3 linked regions of the Homo sapiens genome follow. The protein of the gene in region 3 purifies or fractionates together with the protein of the main gene of each other region. This does not show direct contact. Each region holds a gene or a part of one and is shown on either strand. Other genes may lie near its edges. The genes, in order: SLC22A17, NTRK2 and LMBRD2.

Evidence for each region.
Region 1: the proteins of LMBRD2 (region 3) and SLC22A17 fractionate together in Homo sapiens (co-fractionation; one large-scale study listed by BioGRID). This does not show direct contact.
Region 2: the proteins of LMBRD2 (region 3) and NTRK2 fractionate together in Homo sapiens (co-fractionation; one large-scale study listed by BioGRID). This does not show direct contact.

What each region holds. Positions count from the first base shown.
Region 1 is NC_000014.9:23,349,968-23,354,079, reverse strand, and holds the start of SLC22A17 (solute carrier family 22 member 17), read left to right. Parts: upstream 1-1,192; 5' UTR 1,193-1,338; coding exon 1,339-1,434; intron 1,435-1,628; coding exon 1,629-2,132; intron 2,133-2,224; coding exon 2,225-2,328; intron 2,329-4,112. UniProt on the Homo sapiens protein: Cell surface receptor for LCN2 (24p3) that plays a key role in iron homeostasis and transport.
Region 2 is NC_000009.12:84,676,198-84,679,848, forward strand, and holds part of NTRK2 (BDNF/NT-3 growth factors receptor isoform a precursor), read left to right. Parts: intron 1-3,651. UniProt on the Homo sapiens protein: Receptor tyrosine kinase involved in the development and the maturation of the central and the peripheral nervous systems through regulation of neuron survival, proliferation, migration, differentiation, and synapse formation and plasticity.
Region 3 is NC_000005.10:36,113,878-36,117,528, reverse strand, and holds part of LMBRD2 (G-protein coupled receptor-associated protein LMBRD2), read left to right. Parts: intron 1-935; coding exon 936-1,069; intron 1,070-2,408; coding exon 2,409-2,514; intron 2,515-3,007; coding exon 3,008-3,105; intron 3,106-3,651. UniProt on the Homo sapiens protein: Recruited to ligand-activated beta-2 adrenergic receptor/ADRB2, it negatively regulates the adrenergic receptor signaling pathway. May also regulate other G-protein coupled receptors including type-1 angiotensin II receptor/AGTR1.

The sequences.
Region 1 (4,112 bases), on a different chromosome or scaffold from region 3:
GAATTCAACATGGATAAGGAAGAGAAAGCTCTAAAGGCTGTTGCCTGAGCATTTGGCCACAATGCGATGTTGAGGGTGCCATTCGCTGCAGAAAAAAGCAGTGGAAGCCAACCAAGTTATGGGGGAAAAGCAAAAATTTCGTCTTGAACATATTGAGTTTGAGGTCCCTGTGAGTCATCCAAGGTGAAGGTCAAATAAGAGGTGGCTTCATAGGTCTGGAGCTCAGAACAGAGGTGGAAGCTGGAGATGTCAGTCTGGGCGTCAGGTTTGTATTGTTTGTATGGGTGGTGATTGAAGCTGTGGGCATAGGTAAGATCCCAAAGTGGAGACAGTGTGAGATGAGAGGAGGGCCTAGGACTAAGTCTGTGAGGATTCCAGACACTGAACCATGGTGTCTAAATGATACAGACGGGAATGGCCCTAGAAGCCAGCACCACAGCCTCATCACTACCAATACAGACCCCTCCTGCAGTTGCGTCACCCCGCTGGACTTCAATCATTGCCTCAAGAACCGGGAGGATAATGGCCTGCCCATGCTCAGCACCAATGCCATGAGCTGGAAGACGATTTCTGCAATGGAGAAAAGGGGAGCAAGAGAGACTCAGCAGCAAAGGAAGAGAGTGTTTAGAGGAAGAGGGGTCAACAGTGCCAAATGCTGTTGAGAAATGGAGATTCAAACAGGATGGGAGTGATGAAACCCAAGAAAGTGGTCTCCTTGTAGAGGACTGAAGCTAGGGCTGATACAGGGCCAAGACAGTCTTCCATATGCATAAGTTGTACTGTAATAGCCAGTTTACATGTCTGTCTCCCTGGAGTAAAGGTCTCCAAAGTGGAACTTGTCCACCCTGTTATCCTTAAAGTCTAGTGCAAGTCCTGGAACGTAGTGGACACTTAAATTTTACTGATTAGTGAATGGGTGAATGAATGAATGAATGAATGATGGCAAATGATTGGAAGCAGAGGAAGAATCTCTGGCATCTGCCTGGACTAGCTACTATCCTTCAGCTTTTTTTCTTTTTTACCGCAATGGCCCGCAGACCCAGGAAAGAGACGACAGAGCCCCCCTTCCCTCCCTCCCCTGGGCCCTGGCCCCCCTTCCTCTCTCTGACGAAGAGTCTGGACCGAAGGTTCTGCTGACGTGGGAAGGGGAGGAGAGTCTAGAGGAAGGGGAGGGGAAAGCAGCGCAGAGATCGCAGAGACCAAGGAGGCGCCCGCGGCTGCAGAGCTGCAGAGCGGGATCTCTTCGAGCTGTCTGTGTCCGGGCAGCCGGCGCGCAACTGAGCCAGAGGACAGCGCATCCTTTCGGCGCGGGCCGGCAGGGCCCCTGCGGTCGGCAAGCTGGCTCCCCGGGTGGCCACCGGGACCCCCGAGCCCAATGGCGGGGGCGGCGGCAAAATCGACAACACTGTAGAGATCACCCCCACCTCCAACGGAGTAAGTGCCCGAGCCCCAGGTGGCGACGCCATCCTCTCCCAGCACCCCCGCCCCCGCGGAGCGTCTGGCATTTTCCTCCTGCGCATCCCTCGCCCCTGACTGCCTTCCTAGCCCTCCCTCCCACCTGCCCCCTGCCCTTGCTCTGCGGTTTCCTCCGCTTCACCCTTCTCCTGCCACCCCCTGCCCCCCAACAGCAGGTCGGGACCCTCGGAGATGCGGTGCCCACGGAGCAGCTGCAGGGTGAGCGGGAGCGCGAGCGGGAGGGGGAGGGAGACGCGGGCGGCGACGGACTGGGCAGCAGCCTGTCGCTGGCCGTGCCCCCAGGCCCCCTCAGCTTTGAGGCGCTGCTCGCCCAGGTGGGGGCGCTGGGCGGCGGCCAGCAGCTGCAGCTCGGCCTCTGCTGCCTGCCGGTGCTCTTCGTGGCTCTGGGCATGGCCTCGGACCCCATCTTCACGCTGGCGCCCCCGCTGCATTGCCACTACGGGGCCTTCCCCCCTAATGCCTCTGGCTGGGAGCAGCCTCCCAATGCCAGCGGCGTCAGCGTCGCCAGCGCTGCCCTAGCAGCCAGCGCCGCCAGCCGTGTCGCCACCAGTACCGACCCCTCGTGCAGCGGCTTCGCCCCGCCGGACTTCAACCATTGCCTCAAGGATTGGGACTATAATGGCCTTCCTGTGCTCACCACCAACGCCATCGGCCAGGTGAGGCGGCCAGGCGGGCCGCGGGTCTGGGGGCGGGCAGAGAGCGGCGAGGGCGGGGCCTCACGCCCGCTGCACCCTTCTCACATCCCCAGTGGGATCTGGTGTGTGACCTGGGCTGGCAGGTGATCCTGGAGCAGATCCTCTTCATCTTGGGCTTTGCCTCCGGCTACCTGTTCCTGGGTTACCCCGCAGACAGGTGAGGGCTGTCGTGGGGGCAGGGCTGGTAGAAAGGAGGGGGTGCTAGGGAAGCTAACCCAAGCAGCGGGCGTTTACAGGAGGTCGAAGACGATTCGCTGGACTCTGCAGTCTTCTCTGGACTTCTATTCAATGGTCTATCCATGTCTCAACTTCACTCTCCATCAAGAAATACCCCTTCCCTACCTCTTCCGCGCAAGGGAATGACTCGACCTCTATGGACTATTAGTCCCATTCCCACTAATTAGTGGCCCCCTATCCGTGAATCAATGGCCTCATCTCCAAAGAGAATAGTCTCATCCCCACTAACAGCCCACATGGACTGTTCGCTCCATCTCAGTGACCTCATTCCTGAAGATCAATATGTTAATTCCTAAACACCAACAGCTCCATTCCCACTGATCAATAGTTCAACTTCACAAACAAATTACCCCATTTCTGACCAGCGACCCCTCCCCTACAAGTCAACTAACTATCTCCAAAGACAATATCCTCAGACCCAGTAACCCACAGTCCCATGCCTGCCACCAAATGACCCAACGCTCTGTAGGGGAATAGCCCATAGATTAGCAGTCATACCCTCATGGATCCTCAGGGCTTTGAGATCCTCTCACCGAAATCCCCGTTTCCATGAGTCGGTAGCTTCACCTCTAGAGATCAACAACCCAATCCCAGCAACCAATAACTCTTCCCACAGATCAAAAATCTCATCTCTGATTCTGGTCACCTTCACCACTGACCAGATGCTCTCACTGCACTAAACTTCCGATTAGACTCAGCCCCATTGATCCACAGTTCCATCCAAGTGGATTAATAACTCAACTTCTGTGGATCAAAGCCATCCCAACATTCAATAGTCCAGTTCCTTAAAATCAATACCCATCCTCACTGCCCAATAGTCACACACCTCTGTGGGCCAATGATCCGAAACCCACAGGTCAATAGCCCATCCCTATGCATCAGTGGCCTCATTGCCACAGACCAGTAGCCTCATTCCTATGGAACCATGGTTTCATCCCCAAAGATCAATAATTTGGTCTTCTAAAATCTGTAGCCTTCAGCACATTAACCAATAAGCCCATCCTCATGGAAAAATGCCCCACCCCATTAGATCAATAGCCTAACTCCCAGGGATTGGTGCCCCTTTTGCAATGACCAGAGGCTCCCTATCTTCATCTCCATAGATCAATGGTCTTATCCCCAAAGATCAATAGCCCAGCCTCCAAGAATCAGTAACCATGTCTTCACTAACTCATAGTTAGTGACCATAATCACTTACCAATAGTCTCATCTCCCCTGGTCTGTGACCTTATCCTTACTGATTATTCCCATGGATTAATAGATTCATCCCACTGATCAATAGTCCTACCTTATGGATTAATACACCCATGTCTATGTCCCCACTGATCTTTCTTTTTTCTTTCTTTTTTTTCTTTTTTCTTTCTTTTTGAGATGGAGTCTCGCTCTGTTGCCCAGGCTGGAGTGCAGTGGCATAATCTCAGCTCACTGCAACCTCTGCCTCCCAGGTTCAAGCGATTCTCCTGCCTCAGCCTCCCGAGTAGCTGAGACTACAGGCACCTGCCACCACACCTGGCTAATTTTTGTATTTTTAGTAAGGATGGGGTTTCACCATATTTGTCAGGCTGGTCTTGAACTCCTGACCTCGTGATCTGCCAGCCTCGGCCTCCCAAAGTGCTGGGATTACAGGTGTGAGCCACTGCGCCCAGCCTGACCATTCTTAATGTATTAATAGACCAATGTCCCACCTCCATGGAACAATGGCCT
Region 2 (3,651 bases), on a different chromosome or scaffold from region 3:
CTTTGGATTTGATGCTCAGACAAGTTTCTCAAGGCTCTGAAGTTCCCTGAAGCCTCGGTCACGGAGATAAGGAAGTGTATACATCAGCTGTGAAGGAAGGGCATGATACAAGGTGCTCGGGGTCTGGCAGTGTGTGAATCTGAAGACCTTTGGTGTCAGAGTGTTATGTGGAAATGTTTTCAGTGTCTGCTCTGAACTCCCTCAAACCATGTCTTTTTAAATGTGAGCTGCTAACAAGGCTAGTGGCATGTTAGTACTGGTCTGATGAGTCCAAGGTCACAGGGTCAGTGTTCAGATGGGTCACTTAGAATCGGAACCTCAGAAAGAGAAAGGGCTTTAGAAATGATCTGCTTCAGCCTCTTCTTTGCAAAAATCAAGGGCAGTGAAGAAAGTTGCCGAAGGCCGACTCATTAACAGCATTGTGGGAACTAGAAGCTCCTTCTCCTAGCATCCAAATGAATGCTGGGGGCCTTTGCTTTAGGGTGCCTCCCCTCCGTTCTGTGTTCTCAAACAGACCGCCTAATTCTGGCTCATCATTTTATTAGGTTGGTGCGAAAGTAACTGTGGTTTTTGCCATTACTTTTGCACCAACCTAATAGAACCACCATAAATGGGGAGACAAGTTTAACATGGCTAAGTCTGTGCAAACTCATCTCTGTGAGAGACCAAGTAATTGAAAAGTGCATGAGCTACTGATCTGAAAGCAATCATCTTATCTTCATATAGGAAGAAATATATTTTCTGTTTAGCTTACTGTGTGTGAGTGTGTGTGTGTGTGTGTGTGTTAAATTTGAAGTGTTCCTCTTCTTTAGGCAATTCATACACAAAAAATTTGAGCTTCAGAGAAAAGCCTTCATGAGTTGGCAGCAATGAGGTATGCTAACCTTGGGCCTGCTGGGCCATCTTTGCAGATTGGCATTAGAAGAGGGGCAGAGCAGACAGAGTGAAATGAAACCTGTTGCCCCTGGAGTCTTTGCCACAGTCGGGGGTGCTTATGTAAGTGGAGAAACCCGCAGCCCTTTCGATGAGGTCTGTGTTAGCTGCCCTGAAAGACCTGTGGCCAGAGAGTACTTATTATTCCCCGACTTCTTTCTTCCCCCTGACTTCTCAATGCCTCAAGATTGATGACTAGTCTCAGTGGCTGAGCCAGTGAGCAAACTTCAGGATTATTGGCTCCCATCCAAAATTCATCCAGCTACCATTTTATGTGTTGTTCGTGTTCTGCTCTGAGACCTTTCCAGGAAAAGCACCCTTCTGAGACATATTTTTGGTTGCATGAAGATTTGCTCCCATGGGACGTGAAGGGCCCTTTACAGACATCTGCTTATTTAGGTTTACAGCCTCACTCTGAAGAAGGTGGGGAGGTTTTGGCAGCCTCTGAGGGGCTGTGAGGTTTATTAGTTTGCCTGGGCCCCTTGGTAAAGCAGAGCATAATTTAGGGGTAGGATCCTATCTAATGTCTCATTTAGGGCTCTGTCTACTCCAACCTTGGTGCCCAAATTTGACCTCGAGAGCCAAGGCAATTCTAGGAGAGGTCTAGAGATTTGAATTCATGTTCACAGATTAAACTTCATGCAGTGGGAAGGAGGTGGGCTGGTGCTTCATCCTCTGTCTTCCCCACCCCTATCCTCTTCTCCTGTTCAGCTCCTGAGCAGTCTGATATATATTGTGAAGAGATAAATGATTTGGTTGCCTTTGGTAATATGGCATCTTCTTGTACAAAATAAAACTGTTAATAATCACACACCATTTAGAGTTCCTTTTTTTATGTCAAATAAGGACAAATTGCTACTTAGCATCCCATCCTTTCCTGTAATCTTCATATCCCAAGAATTGTCTACACACACACACATAGACACACACCATAATGTTGTATGTGTGTACCGTGTTTTCATCAATACATAAATCTGTGTATAAAACTCTGCCATGTGTAATTTGTTCAACTTAATTATCTTGAGTTGTAAAATTTTCTGAATAATTGAGAATGTGCTTCCCTAAACCACTATTTTAATTTTGTTTTTATCATTCTGGATGTCCCTTGGCCAGGATCTGGTTGGGCTGTCTTCTTTGAGAGAAGTACTTGAGCATTAGTGCATTGACCCTGTTAGCCGACCTGGTCACTCAGAGACCCACTGTGTCTATCTTCTGATTCTTTGATATCTTCTCAACATAAACGAACAATGTAAACAAAATTGAAAGGTATCGGAATTTTGGTTTCAACCTCTGCAATATAGTGCAATTTAAAAAGAAAGGATCTTCTCAACGCTAATCTTTGTAACAAGAGTTGTTTCTACTTCATGTACCCCAGAGTCCCTTGCTGTGAGGTGGCAGAGGGGCCTATGCCTGAATTGTCTGACTCTTGCTCACTGTGTGGCAAGTGACCTCTCTTTTCTGGGCTTGGCTTATTCCTCTGTGTGATGCATGTGTAGGGGTGGAGGGTGCTGGGCAAGAGAGCTTGACATCATAGCCCCTAGATTCCCTGGTAAGGTGTGACAAAAAAACACACAACTATGGTGAAACAAAACAAAACAAAACAAGTGTCTTTCTCCAAAGAACAAAACAAAACCCCAAACCAGAACACTCTTTTTAGTTTACTCCCAATTTTACTTCAAAACCCTGCTGCTACCACCCAAACTCAAAGAATGTTATAGATGATATTGCTCCTTGGTTATTTCTTGTGTGCGTCTGGTGCTATGGCTTGAATGTTTGTATTCTGCCAAAATTCATGTGTTGAAACTCAGTCACCAGGGTAGTGGTGTTGAGAGGTGGGAGTTGATTAGGACATAAAGGCAAAATGGGATTGGTGCCCTTATAAAAGAGACTCCAGAGAGCTTGTTTGTCCTTCCTGCCATGTGAGGACACACATAGAAGGTGCCATTTATGAGGAATGGGCCCTCACCAGATATGAAACCTCCCAGAACCTTGATCTTAGACTTCTCAGCCTCTAAAACTGTGAGCAATACATTTCTGTTGTTATAAATTACCCAGTCTAAGATATTTTATTTTAGCAGCCCACATGGACTAAGGTACATGGGTTTGGCCTTTCTCTTTGCAACTCTTCAGCCTCTTTCTGTTTCTGGTGGTGTTTCTTATCCCCTTCTCCTCTGTTCCCAAATCACAGACATATATATACAAACAATCATTTGGCTGTAAACCCCCTTTAATGGATTGTAAAGAAATCTTGACTTGTGTACTTTTTTCTGGTGGACGACCTGTGGGCAGACCATCATTGTTTCAACTGAACCTGGCTTGGTAAGGTTAACACAGTGGGAAAGGCGACAAAGTATAGGAACGTGGTATAACTGAAAGGAGCGCTGGTTAGGGATCTAGGATTTTGGATACCCACTCTCTGACAGTATCAGGGTCTGGGATTTTGGTTGAGCCACTTGACCTCACCAGCCTGACTGATTTCATCTTGAACCTGGAGGCTGTGACACTCATGCATGCTACTCCTTGAAAGACTCTGTGGTTCTGAATCAGTCAGCCATGAGCACTAGTGTTTCCTTTTCTGTTCAAGAATTCACCATTGCCTTCACTCCAGGGGCAAACAAGAGCCTGCTTCAGTTCTTTTGGTGGCTAAACAGCAGAAACCTGACCAGTAGGTTTTCTTTAAGTCCAGCTCTGCCGTTGAGGCTGGATGGTTTTGCAGGT
Region 3 (3,651 bases):
ATAGTGCAGAAATCTGAGATTTTTTTTTTCTTTCTGTTTTTTTTGGAGGCAGAATCTTGCTCTGTCACCCAGGCTGGAGTGTGGTGGCATGAACATGGCTCACTGCAGCCTCAACTTCCCGGGCTCAAGAAATCCTCTCACCTTCACCTTAGCCTCCCAAGTAGCTGGGCCTACAGCCATGCACCACCATCCCCTGCTAATTTTTGTATTTTTTGTAGAGTCAGGATTTTGCCATGTTGCCCAGGCTGGTCTGGAACTCTTGCACTCAAGTGATCGTCCTGCTTCAGGAGGATCCATCACACTTGGCCCTGGGAATACTTTGATTATATTTATGCCAGTAAAGCTACATAACTTATAGGCCTCATGTGAAGAGTTGCCAAGGGAATGGGAAAACAGGCTCACATTAGAAGGTAGATTCGAAACTTTTGGATCTAGGATGTTAAACAGTTTGAAGTGTTGGGTTTTTTTCATAATCTTAGTGGGTGATTAAAAAATTCTCTATTACTGTATTTCAATTTTAGAGCATCAATAAATGTTAGCTAGAAATGAAGGCCAGGCTGGGCGTGGTGGCTCACACCTGTAATCCCAGCTCTTTGGGAGGCGAAGGCGAATGGATCATGAGATCAGGAGTTTGAGACCAGCCTGGCAAACATGGTGAAACCCCATCTTACTAAAAATACAAAAATTAGCCGGGCGTGGTGGCACATGCCTGTAATCCCAGCTACTCAGTTGGCTGAGGCAGGAGAATCACTTGAACCCAGGAGGTGGAGGTTGCAGTGAGCCAAGATCGCGCCACTGCACTCCAGCCTGGGTGACAGGGCGAGACTCCATCTCAAAAAAACAAAAGAAAAAGAAATGAAGGATAATGCCTGTAATTGTTAAGTGCTAAAGTCTGTTTGTTTTAAACAAACTGCTTTGTTTTTGTTTTTTTCCAGATTGCCTGCTTCCTTTCCATCTTCTTCCTAAGTATCTGTGTTTATTCTACTGTGTTCAGGATTCGTGTATTTAACTATTATTATTTGGCCTCACATCACCAGACTGATGCTTATAGCCTTCTTTTCAGTGGCATGTAAGTAGGATTATGTTTAGAAACAAGAGAAATGTCATCATTGAGTGTATTCTTATGGATCTTTTATTTTTTGTTGTTTACAGGTGTTCCACTAACATCTATATTTCTATCAGCTAATTGATTAGTTTCAAATATTAAATTGATGTTTGTTGATTGCCAGCTACTTCCTGCTTGAGGTTTAAGGTTAAAATAGGTGTGCTAGGTTAGGCTAGAAGGCAGAAGAAGCATACTTAGTGAGCCCGGATTTACCAACCAGAGATTAGCAAGCAGTAGAAACAATGGACAGTTTAGAGACTAAGTCAGACCTAGATGGTGTTCTAAGATTCAGCGGTCTCTCACTGAGTTGAGGAGGACTGAGAAAACCAACAAGAACAATTTTTCCTGAGGAATTCAGAGAGGATTTAGAGAGATGTCTTCAAGTTGGGCAAGATTGTACAATCTATTACCTGTTCTTATTGTTAAATGAGTCCTATTAGGTATTTATAAAGGATGAACTTAGATAATTTTATAGAGGAGTTGACATCCAAAGTATTTTTAAGCATCTTTTTTGTTGTTTTCCAAATAATTATGGACTCATGGGAAGTTGCAAATGTAGCACAAAAAGTCCTATGTAACCTTCACGCTACCCCCAGTGATATCAAAACCAGGAAATGAGAGTAAAACATTACTATTAACTACAAACTACAGACTTTATTTAGTTCTCACCATTTTTTATCCTTCATTCGTGTGTGTGTGTGTGTGTGTAGATTCCTGTAGCCACCAACACAATCAGGATTCAGAACAGTTCTATCACCACAAAAGAATTATCTCATATTATTTTTTTTTAATTCATACCCACACTTTATTCTCCCCAGCCCCAATTATCCAAGTGTGTGGGTTTGTAAGGCATTCTTTTTATTTGGACAGAATTGAACAACTTTATATCTGTGCTTGTCAGAATGACATATGTTGATACAACTTCAGTTCTTTTATGTACTGAATACAATTCACCTTGAGGATGTTACTGTCCTTGTCATGCTGTGAGATGGATTTTACGGATGGCTTAGTTGTAGGAGATGATACAAAGGCACTCCACAACTTGTGGGGATAAAGCAATGGCAGAAACCATAAAAGCAAGGAGCTTGAGGCTGTAGTCACGTAGGCATTGATGTGGCAATTTTCAGAATATCTCCCAAGTAAGTGAGGGCAGGTCACATTAAGAATTCAATATATATATAAAGCAAATAGATGAAAATTTTAGCTATAATTATCTGAAATGTTTTTAATACATCTCAGTATACTATAAAATGTATTTTGCTGCTTTACTTTTTATATACATATTTTTAAATGTTTGTTGCAGGCTATTTTGCCGTTTGACACCTCCTTTATGTCTTAATTTCTTGGGTTTGACCCATATGGATTCATCTATCTCTCACAAGAATACTCAACCAACTGCTTATACATCTGTAAGTACGGTCAGAAAATAGAATTCCTTAGGTTCACTATCTATATGAGGTGCTGTTATTGTGAAATTTCTTTTAATGCCAGCAGAAAAGTTCTATAGTGTTATTGGTAAAATTTTCTCTTAAAGATTGTATACGTATTACTATTGACTAGATAAAAGTGATTTTCCTTCTTTTATGATAAAAATGTTTTTTTTGGTTCATATATGTTGTCTAGCTGACCAGTATCAAAAGAACTGACCTATACTAATATTAACTTTATATTTGTAGTCAATGTATGTGATAATTTTGAGTAATAATTATATTAATTTTCTTTAAGAGAAAACCTCAATAAAAAGCAGATTTTAAAAAATAAGTCCATTTACTGCTTTTTTTCTACTTTTTAAAAAGTTCAAATGGATTGATATAACTGGTTATAGGCAAATTTTCTAATGATGGAAAGGAATGGAAATTATAGAGCTATTCCAATTTAACTTACTTTTTTCTTGCTCTTCAGATTATGGGTTCCATGAAAGTTTTATCCTTTATTGCAGATGGATTCTATATATATTATCCTATGTTGGTGGTAATTCTCTGCATTGCTACTTATTTTAGGTAAGAAACTTAACATTGTTTTTTCTTTTGCTCTTAAATCTGGATATCCTTTCTCTTTAAAGCTCTTTTAAATATTTACTGATTGAGTTTCAGTTTGTTTCATTGTAGCTTTGGAGAAGCTGGGGATAGTTTGAAGGGACTACTTGAGTGATCAGGTGCGAGTCTCCCTCTAAAAAATTTAAAGAAAAAAGAGGTAGAGTTATTATTCTATTATAATAAATAATACTATTTTAACATTATTCTATTTAGGCTAAAAAATGATAGGATTAATTACAGAATGTTAACTCTAAGTCCTGGCCTTTGACACTGACAGCTATCGTAGCCTGCAAAACACCCTTATGTCCAGCTTTTTTCTAATGACATAAATTAGCCTTAGAGCTTTCCAATAATTATTGCTGGGTGTCTAAATGCTTCAGACCATGGCCAGCACAAAGGGTCAGGTGAGGACCGATTGTAATCAAGCTGTACATTAAGATTAGAGGAGAAATTTTCTCCTGTGTCATAAAGTACATGGCATGCTGTTTTCATGGAATTAGAATGAATGGT